Linked DNA regions of Homo sapiens: region 2 is linked to region 1. Evidence: fine-mapped expression QTL. A gene starts in region 1. The other region holds a variant in brackets. All regions are shown on one strand. Distances are from middle to middle.

Region 1 (15,540 bases):
CACACATTTAGTTGAGTCTGGAAACTTTTGAATTTTTGGCACACCAAGCGTCATCTGGCACGTAGAATGATTGTGGACTGGAGAAGACAGCGAAAGAAAGAAGATTCTTGAAAGTGCATCACCATGTGCTTCTTGATGGAAAAGATGGAACAGCATATACAGTGGACCTTGAACGAAGAGGGGGTTTGGGGCCCAAAGCCTCCCACCCCCTGCACAGCTGAAAATCCACAAAGAACTTTTCACTCCCCAAAACACTTAGCTTCTCATAGCCTTCTGTTGACAGGAGCCTTACCGCTGACATGAATAGGTAAATAACACGTATTTTGTATGCTGCATGTATTACATACTGTATTTTTACAATAAAATCAGATAAAGAAAATGGTATTAAGAAAACCATAAGAGAGACTAACTTTACTGTTCACAAAGTGGAAGTGTGCCTCGTGAAAGCCTTGCCTCCTGGTGTGACGGGGAGCGGTGACTAGGACGGCAGCACTGCAAACCGCCTCCAAGCTTGCCTTCTGTTCTCCAGAGCTACAGGCCTTCATCCTCCTCGTCCCCACCTGGAGGGGCTGAGGAGGAGGGGAAAGGGGAGGGCTTGGTCCTGCTGTCTCAGGGTGGCAGAGGCCAGAGAGGCGCAGCACAGGGGAAGGAGGGGGCAGAGGCAGGCTCACCCAGGACGGTGTTTCTTGAAAACAACCCACACTTGCCATGAAGTTCGATCGCACGCATTTGTTTTCTCCTATCCATTTATTTGTGTAGAAAATTTTTCACCTGATATTTTAAAATCCAAAACTTGTCACGAATGGAGTAGTTAATATTTGGAAAATGAGTTTTGCCCTCCAGGCTCTAATGCACAGTTTAGTGAGTTTTGCCCTCCAGGCTGTAATGCACAGTTTCTAACCCGCTTCCGGGAAAAGCAGCAAGTCCCTGGTGTCTCACACAGTTCGAGGCTCTAAGAGGAGCGTTGTGCCCGTGGGAAATGTCATATCCTAGAGTCCTCCACAAATCTCAGCAAAATACGGGGGATAGAATCTTTCCTCAAGGAGGCGCGGTACACATGTGCGTGTCTGATGGTTAATTTTAGGCATCTACTTGGCTGGATTCGGGACATCTGTAAAGCTGGTGAAGCATGATTTCTGGGTGTCTCTGGGGAGATCAGCGCATGGGTCGGAGGACGGAGTGGGACAGATCTGCTCTCACTGTGGGCTGGCACTGCCCAATCGGCTGGGGCCCAGAGGAAACAAAAAGGTAGAGGGAAGGAGAATTCTCTCCCTTCCAGAGCCGGGACACTGCTTCTCCTGCCTGTGGACTTTGGAGCTCCAGGCTCCTCGGCTTTTGGACCCCAGGACTTGGGGATTTACCTTGGCAGACCCCGGACTCGCAAGCCCTCAGCCCAGGACTGAGAATTACACCATGGGACCCCTGGACGGAGAATTACACCATGGGACCCCTGGACGGAGAATTACACCATGGGACCCCTGGACGGAGAATTTCACCATGGGACCCCTGGACGGAGAATTACACCATGGGACCCCTGGACGGAGAATTACACCATGGGACCGCTCGATGGAGAATTACACCATGGGACCCCTGGACGGAGAATTACACCATGGGACCCCTGGACGGAGAATTACACCATGGGACCCCTGGACGGAGAATTACACCATGGGACCCCTGGACGGAGAATTACACCATGGGACCCCTGGACGGAGAATTACACCATGGGACCCCTGGACGGAGAATTACACCATGGGACCCCTGGACGGAGAATTTCACCATGGGACCCCTGGACGGAGAATTACACCATGGGACCCCTGGACGGAGAATTTCACCATGGGACCCCTGGACGGAGAATTACACCATGGGACCGCTCGATGGAGAATTATACCATGGGACCCCTGGACGGAGAATTACACCATGGGACCCCTGGACGGAGAATTTCACCATGGGACCCCTGGACGGAGAATTACACCATGGGACCGCTGGATGGAGAATTACACCATGGGACCCCAGGACGGAGAATTACACCATGGGACCCCTGGACGGAGAATTACACCATGGGACCCCTGGCTCTCGGGCCTTTGGACTGAATTGCACCACCAGCCTCCCTGGTGCTCCAGCTTGCAGAGGGCACATCACCGGACATCACAGTCTCCGTAATTCTGTGAGCCGGTTTAGGCCCCCAATAATCCCCCTCTCACATACCCATATCTACATCATGTCCTGTTGGTTCTGTCTCTCTGGAGAACTCTGACTAATATAGGGTGTGTGGCTTTTCCTAAAAGGTTCTGCTAGTCCCCAAGTGTCAGTCCCTACGAGACAGGAAGTTATTCAGAGTTCCTAGTACCTGGCTTGGGGCTTGGCACATTGCACATGCTCTAAAATAGGTAGCTATTTAACACATTTACTATAAATAGAGATTATAGAAAAAGTGGAAAGAAAATGTATTTCCACAGGTATGCATCGTTCTGTTAAAGACTTCAGAAGTAACATCAGCTTTCACAAAATTGAGCTTCATTGAAAGTAAAGTCACAGAAAAATTCTGAGGTTGACAAATTTACCCTGAGAATCTCTATCCCCGGCCCCCCTTTTTTGTGGCTCATTCACCCCTCATTTCCTCACACTCCTGTCCTCTGCTCTCCAATGTAAAGAGTTCCCCTCCGCAGTGGCATCTGTGCTTAAACGCTGACCGCAGCCCTAGGCTAGAAGCTCCAACTGTGATTATGGAATTCCAGACACATCCCTGGAGTCTGAAAGGACTGAGGGTTGGGGGTGAGCAGGGCCAGCCATGAGGTCAGCTGGGCCCACAGCCTTTGGAAGAGACAGGGTCCCCACTGCCAGAGGTGGCTGGGCTCAGGGTCTAAGCCAGACCTCAGCTCTGCGTGGCGGAGCATTCACGGCCTCCCTGTCAGAGAGCAGTTTCCTCCTGGCTTTCCTAGAACCGGGCTATTACAAATGTCCCTGGTCTTGGCAATTTTCAGACAGCGACTTTCCTGGAAAAGTCATCTTTTGATGAGTGAGCTGTCACTGTAATACCTTTTTCCTTCAGATGAGGAGCTGATCCTTGGAGTAAGGACAGAATCCCACGGCACAGCCGAGACACAGCTGTGGCCACAGGAGTGCTCCTGATCCCAGGTGTGCCAACATTCCAGGGCTTCTGTCTTCCAAAGATGAAAAAGAAGAAACTATAAGGGGTTTTATTTCCGGTTTTGAGAGCATAGGAGGCAAAACGCCTCATAATGTCAGTTTATTTTGTTAAAGACTCCAAGTGAATATGAAAATGAAGCTAAATTCAGTTTTTAAATGTCACCCTAGTTTGCCTTTGCGGGTTCTGGGGGTCACTGAAATAGTCTACCAGCCCTTCAACTGGTTCCCCTTACAAATGAGGAGATTTGTGTCCGGAGAGATCAGAAAATGCTTCCAGGTAGAGCCGGCACACCTGGGCCTCTGGGTGCCCAGGGCTCTTGATTGCCACAGGGTTGAAAATAAAAGAGAAGACCCTGCTCCTCAGGACGCCAGCAAGGGAGACGTTAATCAGCCACTGTCAGCGTTATGCCTTGGGAAAGCATGGCTTAGTAATTGGCAGCAAATAACACTTTGAAAACTCTTATATTGAGGGAATATCTCCATCCCGTCACCCTCATCTGTCTGTCCCCATCCTCTTCCAAAGGGCATTCAGAACTGGGGAGAGGACCTAGCAAAATAGGTTAGAAAATGGGAAAAAAGATTAAGAACAAAAAATCAGTATTTTAATGAAAATACGAGGACAAAGTTCTTGATATTGTAAAAACTCTGGTTTTGTGTGTAAAAATAGTAACTGAGAACAATTAGGCATAGAAAATGCCTCACTTTCATGTGATGCTTTAATTACTCCCAGGAGAACATTATTAATTATTTAAAGGACCACTTGAGTCATTAATTATCCTTCCCTATTCATTTCTAAGCAAATTTTTAAATTTAGTCTCATTCACCAATTTACTCCCCAATGAGATTTCTATTTCTGCTTCACACGCAGCTAAAAATAGTTCCCTCTTTTGTTCCTTTAATGTTGTTTGTTTTCTTCTCTTCTCCCTAAAAAGCCACTTGGAAAGGTGGCATGGCCGTCAAACCAGACCCTGCTTCTCTCTGAACTCCAGGACCCTCTGGCCTGGAATCGCTGGCCTCCCGGCCTGCAGGGTCCCCCGTCACTCCCAGGACCCTCCTTTCACCCCCTCTCCCCTTCTCCATGCTCCCTGGATCCCCCACACCCTCGGAATTTTGGACAAGTGATAAATGCATGACCGATGCCTACCGATGATGACCAGGGAGGCTCAGCTGACAGCTTTCTCCCTCCTCCCACCAGGCCCCACCCGGGCCTCATCTCTCAAAAAGGAAAGTCCTGGTTTACCAATTCACCCACAAATGTTAGCGATTTAGCACCTCTTGCTTCTCCTTTGAAAGGGAATCAGAGAGGAGAGCATAACCCAGAAAGTGAGGACGCCCTGGCGAGGGGAAGGGTCTGGAGGGCAGCCCCACTGACCTGCTCCCTGCCTGTGGAGCCGAAGCGTGGGCTCTGGGCTGGGCTTGAGGGCGAGTGCTCAGGGTGGGGCCCTGCTGTCCTGGCAGCCGCTGGCTGAACCCTCCAGACTGGAGTGAGTGGAACCAGGAGTAACTCATACATCTGCCCACTTGCTCATCAACAAACAGGGAACACCTGCTGTACAAACCCACAATGCTGGGCATTCACTGGAGGGGCAGACATCAAATAATCTCTCTAAATATTGTATCCTATCGCATCATATTATATTAAGCTAAGAATAGTTCTCCAAGAAAGTGGCAACACCTCCTTGTAAAGGGAAGTTTAAAGAACTCTGAGCCTGGTTGGTCTGAGAAATTGGAGGATGGCAACAGTCAGGGCCCCAGGAGAGGAGAAAGAGACACCTCCTGGAAGAACTGGTCAGAAGCAGAAGGGAGAGGCTGGTGGCCTGTCTCTGTGAGCCCCACCTGCCTGGGGTGGGAGGGGGCCCGGGCAGGGCTATGGCATGCGCTGGTGTGTGCCTGCCTGGGGTGGGAGGGGGACCCGGGCAGGCTGCGGCACGCACTGGTGTGTGCCCGTCTCTTGGACAAACCATCTGAGATGTTCTTCCAGCTGCTCTGCCTCCATCGCTGAGCCTCCTGCTGAGCTGAGTAGGGTCCCCGGCTGGCCTGGCACTAAACTCTGCTTAGATATGTCCAAGGGTCTCTGCTTTTGCCCCAGCGAGGAAAGGCAGGATGCTTCTCCAGACTGGGAGGGCTTTCCTAAGGCAGACACCTGAGCCAAGACAGGTGGAAGCTGGGAGGCATGTGCCTGGGGTGGAGGGTGCCTGGGGCGGAGCGTGCCTGGGGCTTCCAGAGATCAGCAAGGCTGAGGCATGAGAGGCAGAGTGGAGGCTGCGAGACGGGTCCAGGAGGAGACTCAGGCCCAGATCAGGTGTGGCCTCGCATGTAGGGTGACCATGTGCTTCACATAATATGTCCAAACCAGGACATTTCCAAGAATAGGGGGACACGAGTAACGGTTACGCTGGGGCAATGGGCAAAGCCAGGCCAGGCCCAGCATGGCAGGTGGTTGCCTGTTCAAAGGTGTAAACCAAAATGTATTTGAGGCAGGTCTCAATCAACTTAGAGGTTGATTTTTGCCAAGGTTAAGGACATGGCCCAGGGCACAGCCTCAGGAGGTCCCAAGAACACACACCCAAGGTGACAGGGTATAGCTTGGTTTTATACATTTTAGGGAGACTGAAGTTACAAGAAAAGACATAAAGCAATATCTGGAAGGTATACATTGATTTGGCCCAGAAAGGTGGGACATCTTGAAGCGGGGTGTGGGGCCTTCCAGGTCACAGGTGGATTACAGGATTTCCTGATTGGCCGTTGGGTAAAACAGAGTTAAGATCTGCCTGAAGACTTGATATCAGCTTGAGTGAAAATAAAGGGGGTTGTGGAAGCCAAGGTTCTTGTGGATGAAGCCTCCGGCTAGCAGGCTTCAGAGAGAGTGAATGTGAATGTCTACTATCAGGGCCTTGAAAGGTGTCAGACTCTCCAGAAAGACCTAGTGACGGACAGGGATTCTCCACAGAGTGCAAGATTCCCCAACAGACAGCTTTGCTGGGCCATTTCAAAATCTGTCAAAGAAATATATTTCTTCAGGGCCTGCTGGCCGTCATGTGATGCTCTACTAGAGTCTGGTGGGAATTTGCTATCTTATTGCTATGAACAGTCTGTTTGGTCAGCCTTAGGAGCTCTGTTTTTATGTTAATGTTGGTCATGAACTCCAGGAAAGGAGGGTGTAGTGAGGCCTGCCCAACCCCCTCTCCCTGTCATGGCCTGAACTCGTTTTTCAGGTTTCTTTGGGATCCCTTTGGCCAAGAGGGGAGTCCATTAAGTTGGTTGGGGGGCTTAGAATTTTATCTTTTGTTTACAAAGGCATATTGAGAACTTTGGTCATTTTTCTAAGAGCATCAGGTAACCGCAGGGTTTGGGGTGTTCAGCAAAGCCCGTGATTACACACACACTGGACCTTCAGAGAAGTGTGCCATCTAGCTACGACCACAGCCATTTCTCCTGGTCTACCCCGTCCATCGGGACGCACTGCTGCAGGGGAAGACTCACCCATCATGCAACCCCTCACTGCACCCTGGACAGTCACTTCTAAAATGCAGGCCCTCAACAAGGTATTGACGTGTGCATTAATCACCTTGATTATTACAGAGCCCCTCTGCGGTGGAAGGGCAGGTGCTGTCATTCCTACAAATGCATAGAGCTCAAAGTTCATCGCTCACCCAGGTGGAACCGGGAGAAAAAGATGCGTTTGTCGAAGGCACCCAGCGCCACGAGCTTTCTTCACAAGCCAAGCAGCCCGCCTAAGGCCCAGGTCTCCCTCTCCTCGTCTCCCACTAGATACACATGGATGAAGCCAGATAGATAACAGGTAGAGGATAGATGACAGGCAGATGACAGATAGGCAGATGATAGATGATCGATAGATGACAGGCAGATGATGGATGACAGGCAGATCACAGATATGATAGATCACAGATAGATGACAAATAGGCAGATGATAGATGACAGGCAGATGACAGATAGGCAGATGATAGATGACTGATAGATGACAGGCAGATCACAGATATGATAGATCACAGATAGATGACAAATAGGCAGATGATAGATGACAGGCAGATGACAGATAGGCAGATGATAGATGACTGATAGATGACAGGCAGATCACAGATATGATAGATCACAGATAGATGACAAATAGGCAGATGATAGATGACTGATAGATGACAGGCAGATCACAGATATGATAGATCACAGATAGATGATAAATAGGCAGATGATAGATGACAGGCAGATGACAGATAGGCAGATGATAGACTGATAGATGACAGGCAGATGACAGATAGGCAGATGATAGATTGATAGATGACAGGCAGATGACAGATAGGCAGATGATAGGTGATTGATAGATGCCAGCCAGATGACAGATAGGCAGATGATAGGTGATTGATAGATGACAGCCAGGTAGATCACAGATATGCCGGATCACAGATGATGGATAGGCAGATGATAGATGACAGATAATAGATGATAGATTACAGATAGACGATCGATAGGAAGATAATAGATGATAGGTACATGACAGATCATAGATAAATGACAGAGAGGTAGATGATAGATGATAAATAGGTAGATGGTAGGTAATAGATAGGTAATAGATCGCAGAGAGATGATAGGTAGATGATAGCTGATTGATACATGATACAGAGATGATAGGTACATGATAGATGGATAGATCATAAATGACAGCAGATGATAGATGATAAATAGGTAGATGACAGGTTATAGATAGGTAAATTACAGATGAAAGATAGGCAAATGATAGATGATAGGTACATAATAGATGGATAGATCATAGATAATAGATGACAGGTAGGTGATAGAGGAAAGGTGGATGATAGATGATAGGCGCATGATGATAGATACCTGACAGATGGATAGATGAAAGGTAGATGATGGACAGGTAGATGATAGATGACAGATAATAGATGACAGATTACAGATAGATGATCGATAGGAAGATGATAGATGATAGGTACATGACAGATCGATAGATGATACGTAGATGATGGATAGGTAGATGATAGATAATGTGGATGATAAACATCAGATGATAGAAAAATCGATATCTGTGAATACGGGGGGTGGGGGATCAGAGAGAAGCAAATGATAAGCCCAATGAGGTAAATGTTAATGACCGAATCCACAAAAAGGATAAAAAGGAGTTATTTGTAATATTCTTATTCTTCTAATTTTTGTGTAAGTTTGAAATTATTTCCAAATAAAAAATTAAAACAACACGAACTTAACTTGTATCTCTCATTCCAGTGCTTTCCACTTGCTGGGGAACGCCGAGCTCTCCTGGGTTGGTCACGCGGGCGCCTTGGGAGGCCGCGCAGTCCCGCGTGGGGCGCGGCGGGGCGGCCCCAGTGGCACCGCGTGAGTCCCCGCCCAGCGTTCCCCACCCGCCGCCGCGTTTGCGGGGAGAGAATGACCCCCGTTTTGCAAACGCAGGACACAAAACCCGCCACCCAGCTGAGGCTGGGACCCACCTATACCCCCGTCTGCGTTTTTCTCCAGCTTTCTGTTCGACCTGATGTCCTCTTTGAGGCTGCGGGGATCCCCACCAAAAAGCACTCTGATTTTCTCCATTTTCAGATGCCCCAACCTAGCCCCACTGGCTACAAAGACGGCGCGCCCACCCCGGACGGGTCTCTGGCCGCTTTCTTGGGCTTCCGCAGTTGTTTAGAAAGGCAGGTACAGGCGGCCGCAAAGGCATCCGCCCCTTCCGAGCGCACACCTGGCCCGGTCCTCCTCTCCCGGCCCCGCGCCGGCCGCTCTCCCCCAGTTCTCTCTACTCGGAGCCGGGCGCGCACTGAGCACCCCGCTTCCCAGCCCCTCCGCCCACAGATCGGGGAGGCGCGGCCGGGAGGGGGGCGTGGGCCAGGGAAGAGGGGAGGAGAACGGAGAGAGAGGCTGGGGGGGTCGAGGAGACCAGAGGGAGCGCGCGCGGCGGGGACAGAGAGCCCAGGGGCGAGGAGAGGGCGCGGGGCGCAGCGGAAGGGGAAGTGGGGGGCGGTGAGGAGGGGCGCGGAGCGGGGGTTCTCGGGGGAGGAGGGAGACGAGGATTGGGGCAGCGCGGGGCGGGGACAGGGGCGGGGGGCGGAGCGGCGGGGCGCGTGGGGGACGGGCGTGCATTGAGCGCGCTCCAGCTGCCGGGACGGAGGGGGCGGCCCCCGCGCTCGGGCGCTCGGCTACAGCTGCGGGGCCCGAGGTCTCCGCGCACTCGCTCCCGGCCCATGCTGGAGGCGGCGGAACCGCGGGGACCTAGGACGGAGGCGGCGGGCGCTGGGCGGCCCCCGGCACGCTGAGCTCGGGATGCGGACGCTGCTGCCTCCCGCGCTGCTGACCTGCTGGCTGCTCGCCCCCGTGAGTGCGCCCGCGACCCCCGCCCCACGGCGCCTCGGACCCGGTTCTCCCCTTCCGAGAAGAGCGCTCCTCCCGCCGGTCTTCGCCTTCCTCCCGGGTGCTGGAGCGCGGGCGGGGTCCGGGAGAGGGAGCGGGGTCGCCCGGGGTCCGGAGCTTCCTCCCGGAGAGCGTGAAGCGCTGAGCTCCGGTCCCGCCGGGTTGCGGGACTCGGGTTGGGAGGCTGCCTGCGCCCTTCCCCGCGCCCCACCGTCCGGGGTTTGCTGGAAACGGGATCGTTTCTTCCTGGACGCGTCAACGATGAGCTCGTTCGGGGCCGTCCCGGGAGCTGGGAGCTGCGGGCGCCTGCGCGGGCTGCGCGTTTCACGGGGAGATCGGGGTTGGCGTTGGCCGCAGATGCCTCTCGGTCCCTCCCTGTACTTACTGGTTAGTTTTAGTGTCGGGGGGACGTGGCGTCGGTTAAATAAAGTTTCCTTTTGGAAATAGTTGCTTTTTCCCAAGGGCACTGGAGGAACTAACTGCTCATAAGTTTGTTGATTAAGTGCCTTCGCACATGGAGTTCTGAATTATTCCCTCTGTGAACCTTAAAAAAAAAGGAAAGAAAAAAGAAAGAAAAAAACCCGAGCCTTGTTTCTTGCTTTCCTCTTGGAGACTGAAGCGGGTTTGCGGTGCGCGCGGTTTTCGTGCGCGTCGCAGCCGAGGCAGGTCTGGATCGATCCGCGGCCCCTCCGCAGCTGGGAGGCTGCGCTGCTGACCCGACAGTGTCATTGATTAACCGGCGACGCCCGGTCTGCAGCGGGGCTCGAGCCACACTCCCTGGCCTTGCGCGGAGGCGCAGCTCGGCTTTCCTCCCTCGAGGGTGGGCGCTTTGCGGAGCGGGTCCTTGGAAAGTAACGGGTTTTATCACGGTTAATGCTGCTTTCATTGCTAAAATGTCCTAAAAGAAGTCATTGCTGTGCATATTCCAGGAACGTCAGGTATTATTAATGTCTTTTACACTTTAACAAAGTTTTTCTTTTTACATCAATATAATTTCCTTAATTCTGAAATTTAAGCCACTTACTTGTCCTGCATGAAAACAGAGGACTTGGAGCCCAAAGTCAGTGCCTGGTGCTGGTTCAGTCACGAGCAAGAAGCAAGCTCGGGGCTCTTTTAAATGGGGCTGAAGGTGGCAGAAGTTCCAGCATTGTTTTCCCCTTAATTCTGTTAGGATATTGTGTTCCTGGTTGGAACTCTCATTGACCATTTCAATAGTAAGATAACTAAACATAGATGGCCATAGTACGCCCAACAGTATGATTCTCTTTAGTTACTACTTTAGTACAAGTAGAATTTTGGTCGGTGGTGGGGGAGGGGGAAGATCAAGACCAAAAGGATGGGTGGGGGGAGCCCTCCTTAAGCCCCCAAGGGCCGCTTGGCAGGCCTGTGCTGACTTCGCGGAGGGCGTGAAGAACAAGGTAGAAACGGTGCCTTCTGAGAGGAAGCATTGTGTAGTTCTGCCTTCTTCTCACATTAGTAGACTGTTAATTACTATCTTTGTGGCACCTTTCGCTCCCCTGATGGATCCTGACTGGAAATCGCCCCCTCTTCTCTGTGGGGCCACAATGGTGTGATTCCCCCACCTCTGCCTCCCTCCTCATCTTGCTGATTTCTTTGAATATCTCTTCCACCCCAAATTCTAGTCAAAACGATTGCAGTTTTATCTGTAGTTAGAGGGTTAAGCTTTGAACATGTACCAACACCTTTAAAAATAAAGCCCTTCTATCACGGCTCTTTCCCGGGTGGAGGCCGTCCTCGGAGGAAGCGGCACAGTCCACAGGCATCCGCTTAAACCAAACCAAAGGGTGTGAAACGGAGGAGCCGGGTATGGAGAGATGAATGGAGTAAAGAGCTCTGTTGCCTCCAAATTAGTACCGATGTATTCTGTTAGTAAGTTCATTTTCCTGCTCAGAAAAAAAATTCTATTAGATTTTGTGTTTGTTTTATAATACCTTTACAAAGTAAATAGTGAAGTTTTTAAAAAATGCCAGAAAAATCAAGGTGATTGGTTTTAAATGCATTTTGGTTTGGAAGCAGTTTAAAGCTGTGAGGTTTGGGGTTGTTTTTGTAGAATTTTTGCTTGCTTTTCTTCTTCTTGTGGAATTTTTAGTTATTAATATTTCTTTTAACCGTGAACAGGTGAACAGCATTCACCCAGAATGCCGATTTCATCTGGAAATACAGGAGGAAGAAACAAAATGTGCAGAGCTTCTGAGGTCTCAAACAGAAAAACACAAAGGTAAGGCAGAGGCTTGGTGAGTAAGAACTCCCGTGACATTCTCACCCGGGAATGCGCCTCACTCAGCTGTGGTTCAGGGTCACCACCTGCATCTTAAAAAAAAAAAAAGAAAAAGAAAGGCCACTTCCCATTGTTTGTTAATGAACTACTGGTAAAACTCAGAGAGAGTTGGATAGGTAGGGTCTTCACACACACCTTTAAAAAGATAACCTTAATCCTTAGCAGTAACAGTTTCCATGGTTTGAGATGATAGCAACAGTTACTAAAACAATTTCATGGGCTTTGTTATGCTTTGCAAAAGCAGCTTCAGTTTTCCAGGGGATAAGCATTTATCTGAATTCTTGCATTTTAAATTCTTAGCTATAGGACAGATGATTTTGATCTGGTTAAGGATGGTGGGTACTTGGCAGAAAGCAAACAGGAAAATGGGACTTTGGTTGTGCTGAAGACGGGCCTGCGGTGAACACTGTGAACGTGCAGATCGCCTTCTCCGGTTTGACAGAGGCATGCTGGGCCATCATGCTCCAACAGGGCCTGCTATCAACCTGTTTATAGACTCTGCCCTGGGATAGCACCCGGCCTATAAATAGTAGCAAGGCCTTTGTCCCTCAGCTTTCTCTGCTCTTTGTCATGATTTTCTCCTCTTCAAGAAAGAAATTAAATCTGTGTTAAAACAGTCTGTTGTCCTGTAGAGGGCCTCAGATGGTGGGCTTTATTCAAGAATAGCCCTGCCCAGCAGCAACAGAATGCAAGCCACATTACAATGAGTAAAAAGAAGCATGAGAGATTAATTTTAATAGTATCCTTTATTTACCTGAATAAATCTGAATCGTTAACATTTCAACGTATAATCAACCTGAAGTTATTAATTTTGCATTCTTATTTGATGCTAAGTTGTAGAAGTCCAGTGTGTTTTTTGTGCTTACAGCACGACACAGTTTGGGCCCCATTTCAAGGTCCAGTAGCCACAGGCGGCCAGCGGTCTCCACGCTGGACAATGGGCTGTAGATTGTCACTAAAACAGGTGTCCCTGCCCGTTCCCATCCCCCTCTGAGCCACCGTTTCTTGGTCTGAAACGTGCAGGCTCTGCCTCCGAGGCTTCTTCCGGCTGTAAAGATCTGCGATTCCGCGGTGCACGCATGGTTCTGGCCCATCTTCCAGATTGTCTGGTTGAACTCTGTCCAGAGAAAGGCAAATAAAGTAACTTGGCTGAAGCCATGCTGAGAGTCTGTCCTGGGAAATGCTGATGCGGCCCAGGAGATGTGGATGGAGGAGGCAGCCAGTCTGCCACGGCAGAAGCAGCAGCGTGGCCATGGGAGGTCCTTCTTCCAGTGAAAGTTCTGAGTTAGGAAAGGTAGTCCTGAGGAGAGACAGGCTTTTAGGGTTGCCCTCCTCACCTCCAAGTTCCAAATTGTCCAGCTTCCTGTTTTCATGGGATATTAGAAATGCAGATTTATATAAAATATTCCACTTTCTTAAAAGTTTGCAAACAATACATTAAAAAAAAAAGATTTTGAGGGAGCCTGGAGCCATCTGATGGCTCTCTGCACGGTAGCTGGACCCTAGCTTAACCTGAGATTGGCGACGCCTCCTGGAACACCCTCACCCAAAGGCAGGTCAGCACATTTACACTATTCACAGGGGCTCCCCCTCAGTGGGCAGTCCGTGTGTGAGTCATATCGGGCGCTAGGGGCCGCAGGTCCCAGGCAGTCACTCAGCCCCACGCCAGCTTGAGCGGGTTCATATGCAGGCCCGAGAGCCCCTCGCAGGCAGCGTTGGTTGGGAAACTTGTCACTCGGCTTTCTTGCAGCGACAAGGTGTCTACCTGGACATCTCATATTGAAGGCTCTTATTTCCAGTGTCAGCTCTGTAGGAAAAATATCTGTATCTGATCTGTTTTACCTTTTTGACTTGCACGAAGTACTTGGTAACAAGACACTGCCCTTCAGGAGAGAAGCAGCAGCATGCCGGGGCCTCAGCCTGGCCACTCTTTTGTTTTTCTGTACTCTTTGAAATATGCGTGGCTCAAATGCCAGGGATGTAAATAGAAGTAAGTTACCAGAATAAAGATGCTATCAGCGATGTGAACCGGAATCTACAGGCTGAGGCTGAGGCAGGCGTCTGATTAGATGGGCTGAGTGACTCCACGAGACAACAGTGTGCATTTGCACCTGACGCCAGGTGAGATGAGATACTGAGGGTCTGTTACAGCCACTTTTAAATCCATACGATTAAGAAATTTGTGTGAAAGAGTGCCAGAAATGAGGTGAAAAAAATCTAGCTTCCAATTCCAATGAGGTAATTTGTGTAAGTCTGATTTGGAAATGTTTCTCTTTATTACATGTTGAATCTAAAAAAAAAACAAAAACAAAAAAACACGTAAATCCAGACAGAAACCAATTTCAATTCTAAGCTCTCTTACGGGATTCTCTTTGTAAGCTTAGGAGTTATTTGGAGCTGTATGACTTAACATCGATGCATCACTAAGACAAGCTTTCTCTTGCCGATATGTGTATGAGGCACTCCCGGCCTCAGAGCCGAGATCCAGCCCTGTTTCCATGGCCCATGCCAACTCGCAGGTGGAAGGCACAGGTCCCTGAGGGGGCTTTGTCCAGGCTTCCTGCCTAGGCACAGGCTGGATAGGAACTTTCGTGTGACTTTATATCATTCTTACACCCGCGTCTGGAGGGGTGTGACCTCCTCTGGGGAGAAGCAGAGGTGGTCTCTATGTGTTCTGGGAGCTCACTGTTCTGAGACATCCTTCAGAGGCGCATGGCTGAAATGGATCTGACTGTGAATGTCAGCTTAGACCAGGCCATGGAAAGTGCTAGGCTTAAAAACTAACTTTTCTTTGATTTTTTTTAAAACAATGGATGCTGAACTAATTTCGATCTACATGTCAGGAACTATGGAGGGTTTGAGGTCATTCCCCACTTGCAGGCTAACAACGTCGCCTGCCACAGTTTTGCAGATGCTGCAGAAGACGTGAGATGCTGGGCCAGAGACAAGAGACTTGCTGTTCACAGCACAGCAGGCATCATGAGCTGCGTGTGCGCACGGGTTCCCTCTGCTTCTCAAGCCCCCCAGGAGCAGTGGGAGCGGCCCCCTCCGATGCAGTGCATTTGTGTTGTAGCTGAGGAGAACTGGCTTAGGAAACCCCCAGTGTCAAAAGGAGGCTGCTGGCAAATCCCCAGCCTTTGTTACAGAGAGAGATGGTATTGTAATTATCTTAATTATCGAACTCTCCTAGGTTGTTTGCTATACAAACATCCTCAGAAAGAAGGATGACTTATGTCAGAGAAACATATTCTCTATCATACTTGGGGGAATGAACTCCTAAAGCAAGGACTGGTGGCTGCTGAGTAGGATGGAAATGTGCTTCCTTTCCTGTCCCACAGCATCCTGTGACTTTCGTGATCATAACTCACTGTGTGATTTCTTGGTCCTTCTCCTCCAGTGCCCAGAGGAGATGGCATCATGTTTCTGCTGCTTCTCCCAAGTCTCACACAGAACTTAGCATCTAGAGAGATATTTTAAAAGCTTTTGCTGAACAAATTAATGAAAATTCTCACAGTAGAAATTAAGTGATATACATATATATATCTAATATGCACATAGAAAAATTCTGTTCAAAAATGTATATAATGGGAAATGTCTCTACAGACTTCACTGCTGCCAGCCCCAAGTTGCCCCTGGAGAGTTGGGGTGCGCACACGTCCACACGTGGGTAGACCCCGCTTTTCCTTCCAGACACGTGG
Region 2 (15,540 bases), 37 kb after region 1:
TTCCTAGGGAGTCTCTGGACAGAAGGCAGCGTCTTTTATACGGTAGGATTGCAGGTTCCTGTAGGTTCCTCCCCACTCTGTGCGCACTCCCCTTTGGCTGGAAGGTGTCACATAATTGAGTTACTGCTGTGTTCCTCAGAATTCCACCTGGAGGAATTCCCAGCATACCGGTAAGAACTTGTTCAAGCAGCAGCCTTTCCCAAACCCTGTGTATTCCGTTGAAAATGCTGTGAAGCCTCAGAAATGTCGGAAGGCTGCACCATCACAGGGTCCGTTTTTCTGAACGACTTAGTCTACAGTGTCTTTTTCAGGAGACTAAGCTGATTTTCAAGCAAAAATTAGGAAGCCACCACTGCCAGTCTACATTGAAAAGTCACTCATTGCCTGGAAGCTTCCAGCCCCCTGACCAGCCCCTGTGACTGACCACCGGTCACTGCCCACTCTGCCCACTTGCTTTCCCAAATGCACTGACCATGCGGGCACTGACCATGCCGGTGCCAACCCACTGCAGTGCCCTCTGGAGGGCCCATGTGACTCTGCTCTGCCAGCTGTTTGCTTCCCAGGAAGATTTGCTCCTGGTTATGTGTGGCTATGGCACAAATCTCCTGAAACTTGGCTTCAAAATTAGTAGTTGGCTCCTCCCAAGGCTCTGAGGTTGGCCCAAAAGGTTCTGCCCACGTCACCCAAGCTGTTCCTTTCCTACATTCAGCAGGTGCCTAAGCCTTCTCCCTGCAGCCTTTCCGACCAGGGCTCCCACCAACTGCTCCAGCCCTTCCGTGATGACCACCTTCCAGAAGGAAGAGCCTGTCAGTCCGAGGGGTCAGCACAGGTCACGGGGCCACATAGCAGGGTGGGGACAAGACCCCATGTCCAATGGGTGGAGCTCACAGCAGCCCTGGGAGACCTTGCTGTTCACAAACAAATCGATGCCTCACACCTGCTGCCTGACTACTTAGCTAAACGCAGCCTAAGCTGGTATATGAAAGGAAGCACGTGGCCCCAGGAAGCTGACTTGAGTGCTTAGGAAAGACTAGAAGCAGCAACGGAATCGGAGGTGAGAAGGGCAGCTAGAGGGCGTGGGGCAGCTCGGACACCAGCTTTGCCAGCCTGAGTTCCTCCATTCCCAGCACCCTGACCTTGGAGGCTGCAGGCAGCACGTCAGGGGCGTGATCTGAAAAGGCCAAGGGACGACCCAGCCAGCAAGCCTGAGCTCAGGGGCTTTGGTGACACATTCTAAGCACTAGTGGTGACACACCTTGCTGTGTTCTAATTAAGGTGAGACGTCCAAAGCAGACAGATTGAAGTCCTGTTTCAGCCAGGCTTGCCTGCCAAGCCCTGACCATGACTTTGGGTGAGAGGCTGCTGAGATCAGAGGAGGCTCCTTCTCTACCCCTCTGCCAAGTTTTGAAAGAGGAAGATTGGGGTGATAAGTGAAACAACTTTATCATTTATATTGATTCAAAGGTATTTTGGATTATTTACATGGGACATTTTAGCCGAAGAACAATGACCCAGAGAAGCGGCTCCTCTGAGCTTCTGCCTCGGTGTGCGAGCCAAAGGGTTTCATTGCTCTTTTCTCTCTCTTTTTGCTTCTTGATTTGTGAGACAGGTTTGCTGGGTTTATGTTGCATTTGTCTAACTCTGACCCTAGACAGTGCTGTCGAGTAGAATTTCCCATGGTAGTGGAAATGCTGGTGTGATGGCTACCAGCCAAGTTCCACTGCGGAGCATTCAAATGCGGCGGCTGCAACTGAGGAACCAAACCTTTAACTGCATCTCCTTTTAATTAGCTTTCATTTAAATGGCCATGTGAGGCTAGTGGTTGCCATATAGAAAGTACAGTTCTAGGGTTTTTTCTCTACTTTTTACCAATTTATACCTCTTAGTTCTTCTTTCATCTGCTGTTTTAGCTGCAACTTATGACACATTGTTGAATAATAATGAATTGCAGGTACCCAACCTGGCTCCTCAGTTGTACAATTCTGTTTAAACATGTCTAATACTTGCTCTTTCTCTTTTTCTTCCCTCCCCGCTCCCTCCCTCCCTCCCTTCTTCCTTCCTTTCTCTCTCCCTCTCTCTCTTTCTATTCTTTCTTTCCTCTTTTTTTTCTTTGAGACAGGGCCTCACTCAGTCACCCGGGCTTGACTCAAGCTCCTGGGCTCAAGCAATCCTCCTACCTCAGCCTCCTGGGTGGCTGGGACTGCAGGTACTTACCACAGTGCCTGGCTTAATGCTTGCTATTTTTAACAAATATTCTCTGTGATGTTAAGGGAGTCTCATTATTTTACTATTTTATTTAGGGTTTTAAAAAATTAGAAATGGCCACTGAATTTTACCAAGTAACTTTTCAGAGTCTATTGATACATTTTCCACTTTTCAGAGCGACCTTTGATTTTATGATCACCATCTGGAAAACCTAGGTTGCCACCAGAGCTTAACAAGTCCCATTTCCCTGACTGCCTTATCCGAGCACTTTTGTTTGTTTCTCACTCCATCTGCAAATCCTTTGTTTCATGAAATCTCAGCTGCCCACTGCTTTCCAAACAGACAGGCGTCTCCAAGTGGCTGTGCTTCTCTCGGGGGTGGCCCTGCCTGCCTCCCCTTCTCCTCCCATGCCGTCCTGTGCCTCGGCGCACACTCCTACAGAAGGACTTGCTGCCTCTCCCAAATTCGCTGCCTCTCCCAAAGGGTTCACTGTGCCAAATTTGAATCACTTATGTCCAACACTGAACTGATGACCTATTCATGCACTATTTTGCTTTGGCCTGCACAATGTTCCTTAAAAATGTAAACATTTAAAAATGGGTATCTTAATATAATGATACACTTTAAATGCTAGTTTTCAACAGAGTGCATTTATAAAATTGTAAAAGGCAAATGATACTACAAGGCTGTATGAAGATAATAGTCTCCGGCCCCTCGTCATCCCCAGTTCTCAGCCCTATGGCAGCATCTCTTTCATCTCTTCTCTGGTATTTATTTTATTTCTAAACAGCATACTTATGCTCCTGTTTCTTTTCTTTCTTCCTCCCAATTTACATCCCAGTGTCCATTAGATTTCTAACAAGAATAAAGATCTATCTCTCCTGTGCCATTCCCACCACCCAAGTATAATTTATCATCCTGCCAGCCTCCTGATAGACTCACTTCACATTGCTGGTGTACATCATTGCCATCACAGTTGAGCCACATAATATCCAGCATTTCCTTTCTTCATAACTTTATGCTTTTCCTCGTTTTTCTGTTGCTGGGTTTTTCACCTACCTCTCAATAATTAGGCATCAAACCTCAGGCCAGAACACTCTCAAGACACTGCACTGAGGTGGTCTCAGGGTTCCATTTTTTCTCTTGTAGCAGGACGAGCTGCAGACAAAACCCCTCAGACACCGAGATGGTGAAGGGAGTGGCTTTAATCAGCTGGAAGCATTGGCAGACTAGCGTCTTAAAATCCGAGCTTGTCAGGTGCACAATTTTTGTCCCTTTTAAGGGCTCACAACGCTAAGGGTTTCACATGAAAGGGTCATGATTGATTGAGCAAGCCAGGGGGTATGTGACAGGGGCTGCATGCACGGGTGGTCAGAGTGAAACAGAACAGACCGGGAAGTTTCACAGTGTCTTTCTATACAATGTCTGCAATCTATAGATAACATCAGTTGCTAGGTCAGGGGTCAAATTTTAACTACCAGGCTTAGGTCAGGCAGGTCCAGGCCTGGTGTCGGGTCTGGTTCCTAGGCGCTGGGCTACCTGCCTTTAGTTTCGCTTCTGTTTCCTTTTCTGAGTATAAAACAATCTAAAACAATGTGAGAGGGTCTGTCTCTCTTCTCTCACTCCTAGAGCCACTCCTTCTGGATTCCCCCTCCTTGCCAAGTCGGGATCCTTGAGCTGGGGTCTGGCCCCAGGCAGGCATTGTGAGCCTCCTGCTCACACAGTCGGGGTCCTCGGTTGGGGATCTGGCCCCAGGAAGGCGCCATGAGCCTCCTCCTCACGGTCAGGATCCGGTCCCAAGTAGGTCCCGTGAGTCTCCTCCTCACAGTCAGGGTCGGTCCCAGGTAGGCGCCGTGAGCCTCCTCTTCACAGTCGGGGCTCTCAGCCGGGTCCCGTCCCAGGCAGGCGCCATGAGCCTCCTTCTCACAGTCAGGGTCGGTCCCAGGTAGGCGCCGTGAGTCTCCTCCTCACAGTCAGGGTCGGTCCCAGGTAGGCGCCGTGAGCCGCCTCCTCACAGTCGGGGCTCTCGGCCGGGTCCCGTCGGTTCCCTGCAGCGTCCTCCACCCTTGCCGGTGCCGGGGGTACCGATGGCCTGTCTCTCGCTTCTCCCCCTCCTCTGCCTGCCTATTTAACACAGTTGCTTCTGTCTGCAAGGCTGTAGTGACATCTCTTGGTGCTGCCCTTTCAAATTTTTGGCTGTCCTTTGCGTGAGGTTGAGAAGCTGAGAGAGAAACTCCTGTGTTCCCGCCTGGCAGCTGTTGCCAGGAGGTTGCAGCCAGTGCCACGTGTGCGACCGGCACTGTGGCAGCGCTTCCGGCTGCGCCTTCGGCTGCACTTCCGGCTGCTACCTCAGCCTCGGCGCCCTGACGCCCTCGAGTCCGCTTCCTCACATCCTGACAGCGTCTAGCTCTGCTCCCTCACGTGCGGTCCAATAAAGGAACAAATGAAGAGAAGACTTTCCCTGGCCATTGAAGGGATCAGATGATTAGCTCTAGATGTTTAAATCAAATCCTACTGTAATGCAAAGACTGTTTGATGTGGTATGAATTTAGTATCTCTGTTGAAATTTAAAGCAGCAATTAGTATTATACAGTATATAATTATTGCATTATAATTTGTATTATGTATTAGTTATCTTACTATACATTATCTTATTTATTGTTTATTTATTGAGACGAGGTCTCGCTCTGTCGCCCGGGCTGGAGTGCGGTGCCATGATCTTTACTAACTGCAACCTCGACCTCCCAGGCTCAAGTGATCCTCCCACCTCAGCCTCCCTAGTAGCTGGGACTATAGGCATGCTCTGTTACCTCCAGCGAATTTTTAAATATTTTCTGTAGAGATGGGGTCTCGCTATGTTGCCCACGCTGGTCTTGAAGTCTTGGGCTCAAGGGATTATCCCGCCTCAGCCTGCCAAAGTGTTGAGATTACAAACATGAGTCACTACACCCAGCCCATTATTTTAAAATAACAATATTATATAATTATTGCTTTTTTTTTTTGAGACGGAATCTTGCTCTGTCACCCAGGCTGGAATGCAGTGATGCGATCTCGGCTCACTGCAACCTCCACCTTCTGGGTTCAAGCAATTCTCCTCCCTTAGCCTCCTGAGTAGCTGGGATTACAGGTGTGTACCACCACACCCGGCTAATTTTTGTATTTTTAGTAGAGACGGGGTTTCACCATGTTGGCCAGGCTGTTCTCACACTCCTGACCTCAAATGATCCACCAACCTCATCCTCCCAAAGCGCTGGGATTACAGGTGTGAGCCACCACACCCAGCCATTACTATTATCAAGGTAGAAATTTGTCATTTTGTGATAAAAAGCTGAACCTTCAAAATAACCAGACACGAAACTGCCAGAGCTTGCTGTTTTATAGGAGATGGACAGAACTTTGCTGATCACATGCAGAGTCTTCACTTGGAGGCCTAGACATCTTCACTTTCCTCTCCATCTTGTTCACTCTTGGCTAGGAACCCCATCCTGACACCTCTCCACCACCTGCCCTACACACCAGAGTTAGAAGTGCTTGGTTTACGAACTTAGCATTTAAATAACTCTACTACTTAGACTCTAAGCAGCCTTACACGGGGGCTCACGCCTGGAGTTTCTAGTGATGCATTTACATTTGATCACTTGTTTTGAACATTTTAAAAGAAAACCAACATTTTCTTTAAATATGTTAACATTAATGTAATATGAATTTATGTACTTATTCAAGTATTGGTATGTAATTTTATTTTATAATAAATATATTTTCACTTTTATTGAAAGTATTTAGAAACTATTTTCATCTGCAAAACTTAGCTTATGGCCAGCTTTTCAGAGACATTTCTGTATTCTTGAAAGTAAAACACTCCTTTGTTCACACCAAAGCTGTGTGTTCTCTATGGATGTATTCCTGCAATTATTGCACAGGTCTGGGTGGCATGTGCTGAAAGGAAAACTGATTGTTTGTTTGTTTGTTTGTTTGTTTGTTTGTTTTACCGACCAAGGCTAGCACATTGCTTTTCTGATACTGAGGTTTAAGTAAAAGGTAAAATTT[TA/A]GAGGTCTCAAATATAGTATAAATACCATGGACAAGTAGGAAAGTCCTGGGTTTAACATGCATTCCATCACTGTTGTGTGATATTGAGAATTCATTAAAAGATTTGAACCTTAGTGCTTTTCATCTGGAAGATAATTAATGCAACATTTTTATATCTAACCTTCACCAGGTGGTTATTAAGACCAAATAGTAGGTCTAAAAATGTTTAAGCTATGCATTATGCAAATTATTTGACAACTCCATGAAGGTAACCTAAGATTTTGTTGCTAATAAGGCATCTTGACAGTGAAAAATCAAACAAATATTATCAAATACTTTTATTTGCAAATAATCATTGAAGTCAGATTCCACAGAAGCACAAGCACACTTTCCCTGGGCGTCTCCCTCCCCGACGGGGCCTTACACTAATACCCAGTGGTGCCCATTTCATCACACTAGGAAATGCTGATCACAAGAAGTAAGTAATGATTCTCTTAAAATTCAGAAGGTACATGGTATACATTGAAGTACTCAAATGCTTTCTACCACCATATGGTTATTCCTCCAAAGCTAATTGAGATGAACCCACAAGCTAACTATAGTCTCAATAATTGTGTTGGTGCAAGTGTGTTTCACAGGAAAGGAGTTTGCGAGGCAGTTATCTCATTAATGGGGTTTCTATTTGTGACACTTCTGTCACCTTGCACCTGCCTCACTCTGCTTCTCTCCTTCCAGCCTGCAGTGGCGTCTGGGACAACATCACGTGCTGGCGGCCTGCCAATGTGGGAGAGACCGTCACGGTGCCCTGCCCAAAAGTCTTCAGCAATTTTTACAGCAAAGCAGGTACTGTCCGTCGGTTGAGTTCCTGAGCTCCTCCAGGGTGTTTGCATCTGAGCGTCCATTTTTTCCATCCAAGAAGCAGGAACATCACTTTCCTTCAGGCATCTCCTGCTACCCTGGGGGTCAGGGAACAGCTGTGGCATATTGGGGTGAGTGCCCGTCTTAGGGAGCAGAAGGGCATCACCTGCCTTCAGCCAAACCCCAGAGAGCAGGGCAACTACAGGGAAAGAACCAGGGGAGACAGGAGCCAAATGGGAACCAAAGCACGGGAAACGTGCATGAGAGGGGAGGGGAGGCAAGGGGGCCCTAAAGGAGGCTCCCCTCCTCCCACTGAGTCGGCCTGTGAGCCCCAGAGAGCACACTCTGGAAGTTTCTGGGAAGTGGGAAGTGTGGCACCCAGAGCCTCCATGCTCAGGGCAGAGGCCCCAGGACACACCTAGTTTATCGAACCCACTCCCCCAACCTCCCTGCCGCCTCACAGGTTTGATGCTGCCTGGAATTTGCAGTTTCTCTGGGCTTCCAGGCTCCTCCTCTGCACCCAGGGCATGCTCCGTATGCGGTGCTGCCAATATCTCTTGGCTGAATCCTGAGAGAAAGGTTTTGTTTGTTTTTGTGAGTGATTCAGATTTTCATAGTGTGAAGAAATCTATTCAGAAAAATAGAAAACATAGGAAACATCTGGAAACAGAAAGCATAATACTTTGGAGCACTATGGAGAATTTACTTTTATCTTGGACAGAGGTTAAAGGGTAAAGACTTTGGGAAGTAATAATGCTGTAGTGTTTTAAAGCAGAGTTTTGGAAAAGAGATTGGGACAGAGGAGAAGGAGATTCCGAAAGGAAGATTTTGACTTTCTCACCCCGAGTTGCCAGCAAAGCAGCCTGAAGGTAGGGACCATGCTTGCATTACCATCACTGCCCACCCCTGAGTTAGAACCTAAGTCACTTTAGAGAACCTGAACTTTAAGAACTGTTCCCTCCAATCAGTAGCATTTCTACTGAGCAGCTTGGGCTGCATCCATTCTCCTGGAGATCTGGAGGGAATTGGCATGGACTCTGGCTTTTCCTAGTCGATGGCATGGTTCTGAGGCTTCCAGAAAGCACCCAGCAGCCTGGTAGTTTGCACATTAGCAAGCACCAGAATCCAGTCCAGCCTCTGCCAGACAGAAGCCATCTGGGCACCAGGCGCCCAGGTCAGTGAGGCTCTGGCCCTGCCTGGAAGCATCCTGCTGCTGCCTGTGAGAATGAAAACTCCCAGTTGGCTTTGGGTTAAATGCTTATTCCACCTTTTTCCCAAGCAGGGAGCATGACACCACCTTGTTATTGTGAGGAAACTTGTGGTGTTTCCCCAAGTCTGGGCACTTGAGTAGTCGCAGCTAGATGATCTGAAATGCAGGGGAAATATGCTTCTGCTTTTTCAACTGATCACAAAAACGTGAGCTATGCGAGGACATGCACAAACTGTGGACAGATGGTCCCCATGGAATGTCCGCATGGAATTCATCTTTGGGGCATTAAATGGGCATCCTTTGCAAATACTTAGAGAGATGTGGATGCGACTGGGGGCCGAGCAGGGCTGGGGTGAAGCCACCTGGCATCGTACCACAGAAGCTGAGGCTTCAGAGACTAAATTTGGTGGGATAACTGTAGAGTCTTAGAAAGAAATGAAAGTCAGGCTTGCGTCTGCATGGTGCTCTGTGGTCTACAGAACACTCTACACATGTGATGGCTGCTCCTCCCATGACCTGTAAGGAGAGCTGGGTCATAGAACACACGTGGAATCATTTCTGCCCACAAACCCAGGTGTTCCAGAAATAAGTCACCATTCTAATGAAACATTGTGTTCTCTTTTGATTTCTCATCCTTCCAGCAGGTGGGAGGTTTGGGGGCTGTCTGTCCTATGCTAGGCAGGTGGCCTCTGGGCATCATCACGTGTGTCCGGCACTGTGCATCATCACAGTGACCAGCACACTGGCGCCCTGTGTCTCTGTGCCAGGCGGGACCCTGGGCCCTGTCCAGAAGCAGTGGGCAGCTCCTTCTCCAGGTCCTAACCCCTGCCCTGCAGCAGCTCCAGAAGCAGTGGGCAGCTCCTTCCCCGGGTCCTAACCCTGCCCTGCAGCAGTTCCAGAAGCAGCGGGCAGCTCCTTCAGGTCCTAACCCTGCCCTGCAGCGGTTCCAGAAGCAGCGGGCAGCTCCTTCCCCAGGTCCTAACCCTGCCCTGCAGCAGTGGGACCCGGGATGCAAGTCCTCTTCCCACCCGGGCTGGACTTCACCACTGCTGCTTGGGGAAAGCTGTGAGGATTAGGTGCTTCAGACATTTCCTGCCCCCATCCCCTCCAGGAGGCAATGAGCCAACTGTCTGCATAGAGGGGAACAAAGGAAGCAGGGAGCCAGGGTGAGAGGCACGAGGACTCATCACTGGGAGGACAGCCTTCTGTGAGCAGCTGCTGTTCATGCCCCATGCTCAGGGGCCAGGAGGCAGCTCCGACAGCTGTGTGCTGACCTTTCTCCCTTGACTTGCTTTCTGTGTTTCCAGTTGCTCCTGGTGCCCACCTGCCAATTCTGCATGGCACTGTTTTAGCCAGACCCAGGGCAGCAGCTCAGCCGCCCATCCAGCACAGGTGTAGGGCCAGGTGTGGTTCTGATCCTTTAAAGGGGCATCAGCACATCCCCCAGTGGAGGATGATGTAGGCTCATGGGGCTTGGAATAGTCGCTGAGAAGCACTGAAGCCCTAAGGGAGGCCTTCAAGTATTCGTCATCCTGCAAGTGGGCGAGAGTGTGCTCCCACCCCCCACAACCTTTCTCTGCACCTCCCTGGCCTCTCTGCCCCTGGATGGCCTCTCTCTGCACCTCCCTGGCCTCTCTCTGTACCTCCCTGATCTCTCTGCACCTCCCTGGCCTCTTTCTGCACCTCCCTGGCCTCTTTCTGCACCTCCCTGATCTCTCTGCCCCTCCCTGGCCTCTGTGTGCCTCCCTGGCCTCTCTCTGCATCTCCCCGGCCTCTCTCTGTACCTCCCCGGCCTCTCTCTCTACCTCCCCGGCCTCTCTGCCCCTACCCAGCCTCTCTCTGCCCCTCCCTGGCCTCTCTCTGCCCTTCCCTGGCCTCTCTGCCCCTCCCTGGCCTCTCTGCCCCTCCCTGGCCTCTCTGCCCCTCCCTGGCCTCTCTCTGCCCCTCCCTGGCCTTTCTGCCCCTTCCCGGCCTCTCTCAGCACCTACCTGGCCTCTCTGTGCCCCTCCCTGGCCTCTCTCTGCCCCTCCCTGGCCTCTCTCTGCCCCTCCTTGGCCTCTCTCTGCCCCTCCTTGGCCTCTCTCTGCCCCTCCCCGGCCTCTCTCTGCCCCTTCCTGGCCTCTCTCTGCCCCTCCCTGGCCTCTCTGCCCCTCCCTGGCCTCTCTCTGCCCCTCCCTGGTCTCTCTGTACCTCCCTGATCTCTCTGCAGGTTGCCACCTCAGTCATTTCCTGTCCTTCCACATCTGCCCCATGTGTCTCAGGAGTGAGAAGTCAGAAAGGATAAAGAACCTGTGAGGGAATCTGCACTTCATAGAATGACTTTCTGACTTAGTTTGTGGAGTTTTATTTCAGCATCTTCTTTGGATTGGTAAACACTGATCTCCCGTAGGAAGGAGAAAAGGCTGCACCTCGCAGAGGATGAGTGACAGGCTCAGCTCCCACCGAGGTCCTGGCTTCCAGGCTCAGGATAGGGGCCTGCAGGTGCCCTGCTCAGGTGAGAGCCAGGCTGTCAGGTGTGGCGCTTGGCCCATCGCTCACCAGTGTGACTTTGGGCAAGTGACACGACTTCCTCAGCCTTGGCCGTCTCATCTCTGAGATTAATTGGAGAGCTGCCTCCTGTGGTGTCAGGATTAACTGGGTTGATGCAAGCACAGAGCCCGGCATTCCTGAGGGCTCAGTGAGTCGTAGTGGCCACTACCACATGACTAGTATTATTATAATAACTATTATGAGTGCTGTTCCTGAGTCTGTGATGGGCACATTATTTATCTTTGTGGACCTGTCTCCTTGTCTGCACAATGGGGCCGTGGGACCAGGTCTCTAGGAGGCTTGCCTGCTTTAGGGCTCTGTTTTGCCTCTACCGTGTATGGGGTCTCTGCAGCTAAGAGGCCCCCAGACCCTGCTGGGGCTCCCTGTGTGAGGTGTGGGCCTTGTAGTCAGAGCCCCTGATTGGTGATGGTGTCGGGGTGCCAGTGGGCAGGGCCAGCCCTGAGGCCTTGCTGAGACCAGTCTCCCACCCCACTCCTCCCCAGTACAGCCAGAGCCTGGCCCGGCCCTCTCTCTGCCTCTCATCACTGCAGGACAAGAATCATGCACGCACCCCACTCAAACTACTGAGTCTTCAAAGCCTTGTTTTCCCCTTCTGTAAAATGGGAACAGCAGCGCCCACCAAGTCTGTCTTGCAGGGTTGTCTTGAAATTAAAAAGTCACGGGAGTGAAAATATTTGCTAAATCCAAAGCCCCAGACCCTTCCAGTCACCCAGGCAGGGAGACAGGGGCTCCGCTCTGGCTGTGCCAGGAGTGCATGGAGGGGTCCGGCCTCCTGGGCTCTGCTGTGGGGGTGACCCTAACACCATGCAGCCATGCTCGGGGCAAGGCTGGCACGGCGTTCAGTGCCTGGTTTTATTCTTACGGCTCGGACACCTTCGAGAGCTTTATCACTTACTGTTCTGTGTGGCCATCTGCTAAGGACACACACAAATACAAGGAACATTGAATTTCTGAGCTTACATATGATTTTAGTTCCGTAGGCGCAAAAGATGAGATTGTAAGGGAACAACTGCCTTGGTTTCCTACAATTAAACTGTAATTCCGCCATCCTTTCTTCCAACACCAGTGGCCAAATGGAGCCTGCCCTACTGGGTCACGGTTGGTGATGAGGGCCTGGCCAGGAGGAGGGAAGGTGCTGTCAGGAACTGGGGCAGGCCAGGCACCAGGTCACCGTTGGTGGTGAGGGCCTGGCCAGGAGGAGGGAGGATACTGTCAGGAACTGGGGCAGGCCGGGCACCCGGTCACCATCGGTGGCAAGGGTGCTGGCTGGGAGGAGAGAGGGTGCTGTCAGGAACTGGGTGGGGCACCCAGTCACCGTCGGTGGTGAGGGCCTGGCTGGAAGGAGGGAGGGTGCTGTCAGGAGGAGGGAGGGTGTTGCTGGGAGGAGGGAGGGTGCTGTCGGGAGGAGGGAGAGTGCTGCCAGGAACTGGAGCAGGTGGGGTACCCGGTCACCATCGGTGGTGAGGGCCTGGCTGGGAGGAGGGAGGGCATTGCTGGGAGGAGGGAGGGTGCTGCCAGGAGGAGGTAGGGTGCTGTCAGGAACTGGACTGGGCACCTGGTCACCATCAGTGGCAAGGGTGCTGGCCAGGAGGAGGGAGGGTGCTGTCGGGAACTGGAGCAGGCGGGACACCTGGTCACTGTCGTGCTGTTGGGAACTGGAGCAGTGGGGCATCTGGTCACCGTCAGTGGCGAGGGTGCTGGCCGGGAGGAGGGAGGGTGCTGCCCAGAACTGGAGCAGGCGGGGTACCCGGTCACTGTCGGTGGTGAGGGCCTGGCCGGGAGGAGGGAGGGTGCTGTCAGGAACTGGGGCAGGCTGGGCTCCTGGCTCCAGGATGGCCAGGGCTTGGCTATAAATATCACTTATGGTGGCAGAACCTAAGAGTCTGTTAAGAATTTTCATTCTGCCCCAAAAGAACTACACTTACAGTTGCGGTAATTATGACTTATGACACAGTGCGTTCACTCACATCTCAGGACCCACCGGCCCCGAGAGGTGACCTGCTGTCCAGGTCACATGGACTAGGAGGGCAAGGAAGGTTTTTTGAGTGGCAGTCCTGTCTCCTAGCTGACCCCTGGGTGTGGGAAGCATTTTAATAGAGCACGGGCTCAGCACGGACTAAGGTCCCTTCTAAGGCCAGTTTTCATGGACTTGCAGATAAAATATCTGAACTTCACTTTCCAGGAAACATAAGCAAAAACTGTACGAGTGACGGATGGTCAGAGACGTTCCCAGATTTCGTCGATGCCTGTGGCTACAGCGACCCGGAGGATGAGAGCAAGGTAGGCTCCTGCGTGGTGCTACGGTGGTGAGGTTCCACTTCCTAACACTGCACCAGAAGCCCCCTCCTGCCCTGCAAGAATTATGTAGATTTTTCCCCTAAATAATCCTCTGAGTACCAATGCTACTTTCTGCTTTCCAAGTTAAGCGAAGTCCCTGTTTCCGTTCTGCTGCTGGCACTTGGGATTGTTTGATTGTTCCGTCATTTTGCAGGCAGGGAAAGGCCGGTTTTCTTGACCTGCTGTGTATGTGTCTGGGAGATGGTGAGGAGAACCTGAGAGTGGCCCCGCCTGCCCGAAAGTTACTTTTCAGATGAGTCCTGGAGAGCATGCCCTTTCTGCATTTGGATTTCTTGTCCCATTTAAGATTTTGCCACATTCTGGGGCATTGAGAAGTCAGCGCCATGGTTTCCTGAGCCCTGAGCCTGCAGCAGGAGATGTGATCACAATTAGGGTGTCTTTTCAACTAAGAGACCCAGCTTGTCCTCCGCCAAGAGGTGTCTGGGAGCAGGGGTCCCAGGATGAGTTGGGGACCCCCCAATCCGGGCTGCACAAACTTGCTGCAGTGATCTGGAGCTCTTGGGTGTTATGTCCACTGTGAACCCTTCTGCAGGGCTGTGATCTTTCAGTAATGAGGATGTTTCTCCCGAGTGTGGGATGTGTGGCCTTAAGCTCTGCTCTGGTCCATCCGTGCAAACTTCCCCAGCTCTGCCTCAGACAGCTGCTTCTCCTGAGGGCTCACTCTGTGCTACGTCTGCCTGTGGTTTATCACCAGACAGACCTCCATCCTTGCCGGCAGCCCTGGCAGCACCGTGTGGGTGGCGGGCACCATAGCAACCTGCAGCCAGAGGTGTGTGCAGAGTGTGCTCCCTGCACAGGGCAAGGCAGGAGGCAGGGGATACATTGGAGGCTGCTCTAAGGAGCCCTGGGAAGTATCGCGCTCCCCACATGCAAATGTTCTCCTACAAGCCCACAGCATTCCGGGCAAAACCATCAGCTTGTGGGCCGATCACCTCCTGCCCTGACCCTGCTCCGCCTGCCCCTCCTGGAGGTGTGGCTTCTGCCCTCTGGGCCCCCAGGGGATGGTGGCAATGCTGCCTGGCTGCCTCTTGGGAGAATGAGCCCAACTTTCTTACAGAGGCCTCCTTTGCTCACTTCTCTAAGATTCACAACTCTAAGCCAGTTCTTTCTCCGCCAAATTATTAAACCCTAGGAAAGGAAGTATCTTATACAGTAACCAATATCCCAACGATTGGAAGGTAAAACTCCTGACCCATGGTATATGGGTCATTATCACACTGCTGATAAAGACGTATCTGAGATTGGGTAATTTATAAGAAACAGAGCTTTGATGGACTCACAGTTCCGTGTGGCTGAGGAGGCCTCAAAATCATGGCAGAAGGTGCAAGGCACATCCTACATGGCAGCAGGTGAAAGAGAGAATCAGAGTCAAGCGAAAAGGGAAACCCCTTATCAAACCATCAGATCTCGTGAGACCCATTCACTATCACAGGAACAGTCGGAACCGCCTCATCGGATCTTCTGAGACCCGTTCACTATCACAGGAACAGTTGGAACCGCCTCGTCGGATCTCGTGAGACCCGTTCACTACCACAGGAACAGTCGGGGGAACGGCCTTGTCGGATCTCGTGAGACCAGTTCACTACCACAGGAACGGTCGGGGGAATGGCCTCGTCGGATCTCGTGAGACCCGTTCACTATCACAGGAACAGTCGGAACTGCCTCGTCGGATCTCGTGAGACTCATTCACTACCACAGGAACAGTCGGAACCACCTCGTCGGATCTCGTGAGACTCATTCACTACCACAGGAACAGTTGGAACCGCCTCGTCGGATCTCGTGAGACCCGTTCACTACCACAGGAACAGTGGGAACCGCCTCGTCGGATCTCGTGAGACCCGTTCACTACCACAGGAACGGTCGGGGGAACGGCCTCGTCGGATCTCGTGAGACCCGTTCACTGTCACAGGAACAGTCGGAACCGCCTCGTCGGATCTCGTGAGACTCATTCACTACCACAGGAACAGTCGGAACCGCCTCGTCGGATCTCGTGAGACCCGTTCACTACCACAGGAACAGTCGGGGGAACGGCCTCGTCGGATCTCGTGAGACCCGTTCACTACCACAGGAACGGTCGGAACCGCCTCGTCGGATCTCGTGAGACCCGTTCACTACCACAGGAACAGTCAGGGGAACCGCCTCGTCGGATCTCGTGAGACCCGTTCACTACCACAGGAACGGTCGGGGGAACGGCCTTGTCGGATCTCGTGAGACTCATTCACTACCACAGGAACAGTCGGAACCGCCTCGTCGGATCTCGTGAGACCCGTTCACTACCACAGGAACGGTCGGAACCGCCTCGTCGGATCTCGTGAGACCCGTTCACTACCAC

Evidence for each region.
Region 2: its variant is fine-mapped to the expression of VIPR2 in whole blood (INTERVAL, PIP above 0.99).

What each region holds. Positions count from the first base shown.
Region 1 is chr7:159,138,688-159,154,227 of GRCh38, reverse strand. It overlaps VIPR2 (vasoactive intestinal peptide receptor 2), which reads left to right and starts at 9,361. Exons shown (of 13, transcript NM_003382.5): 1 at 9,361-9,507; 2 at 11,683-11,782. The coding sequence starts at 9,457. RefSeq lists an enhancer at 6,364-7,563.
Region 2 is chr7:159,101,347-159,116,886 of GRCh38, reverse strand. It overlaps VIPR2 (vasoactive intestinal peptide receptor 2), which reads left to right. Exons shown (of 13, transcript NM_003382.5): 3 at 6,968-7,075; 4 at 13,033-13,130. Among named protein-coding and RNA genes, the nearest start is that of VIPR2, 36 kb to the left of the region's middle. RefSeq lists an enhancer at 3,464-4,139. The variant TA/A (reference allele first, on the strand shown) is at 6,253.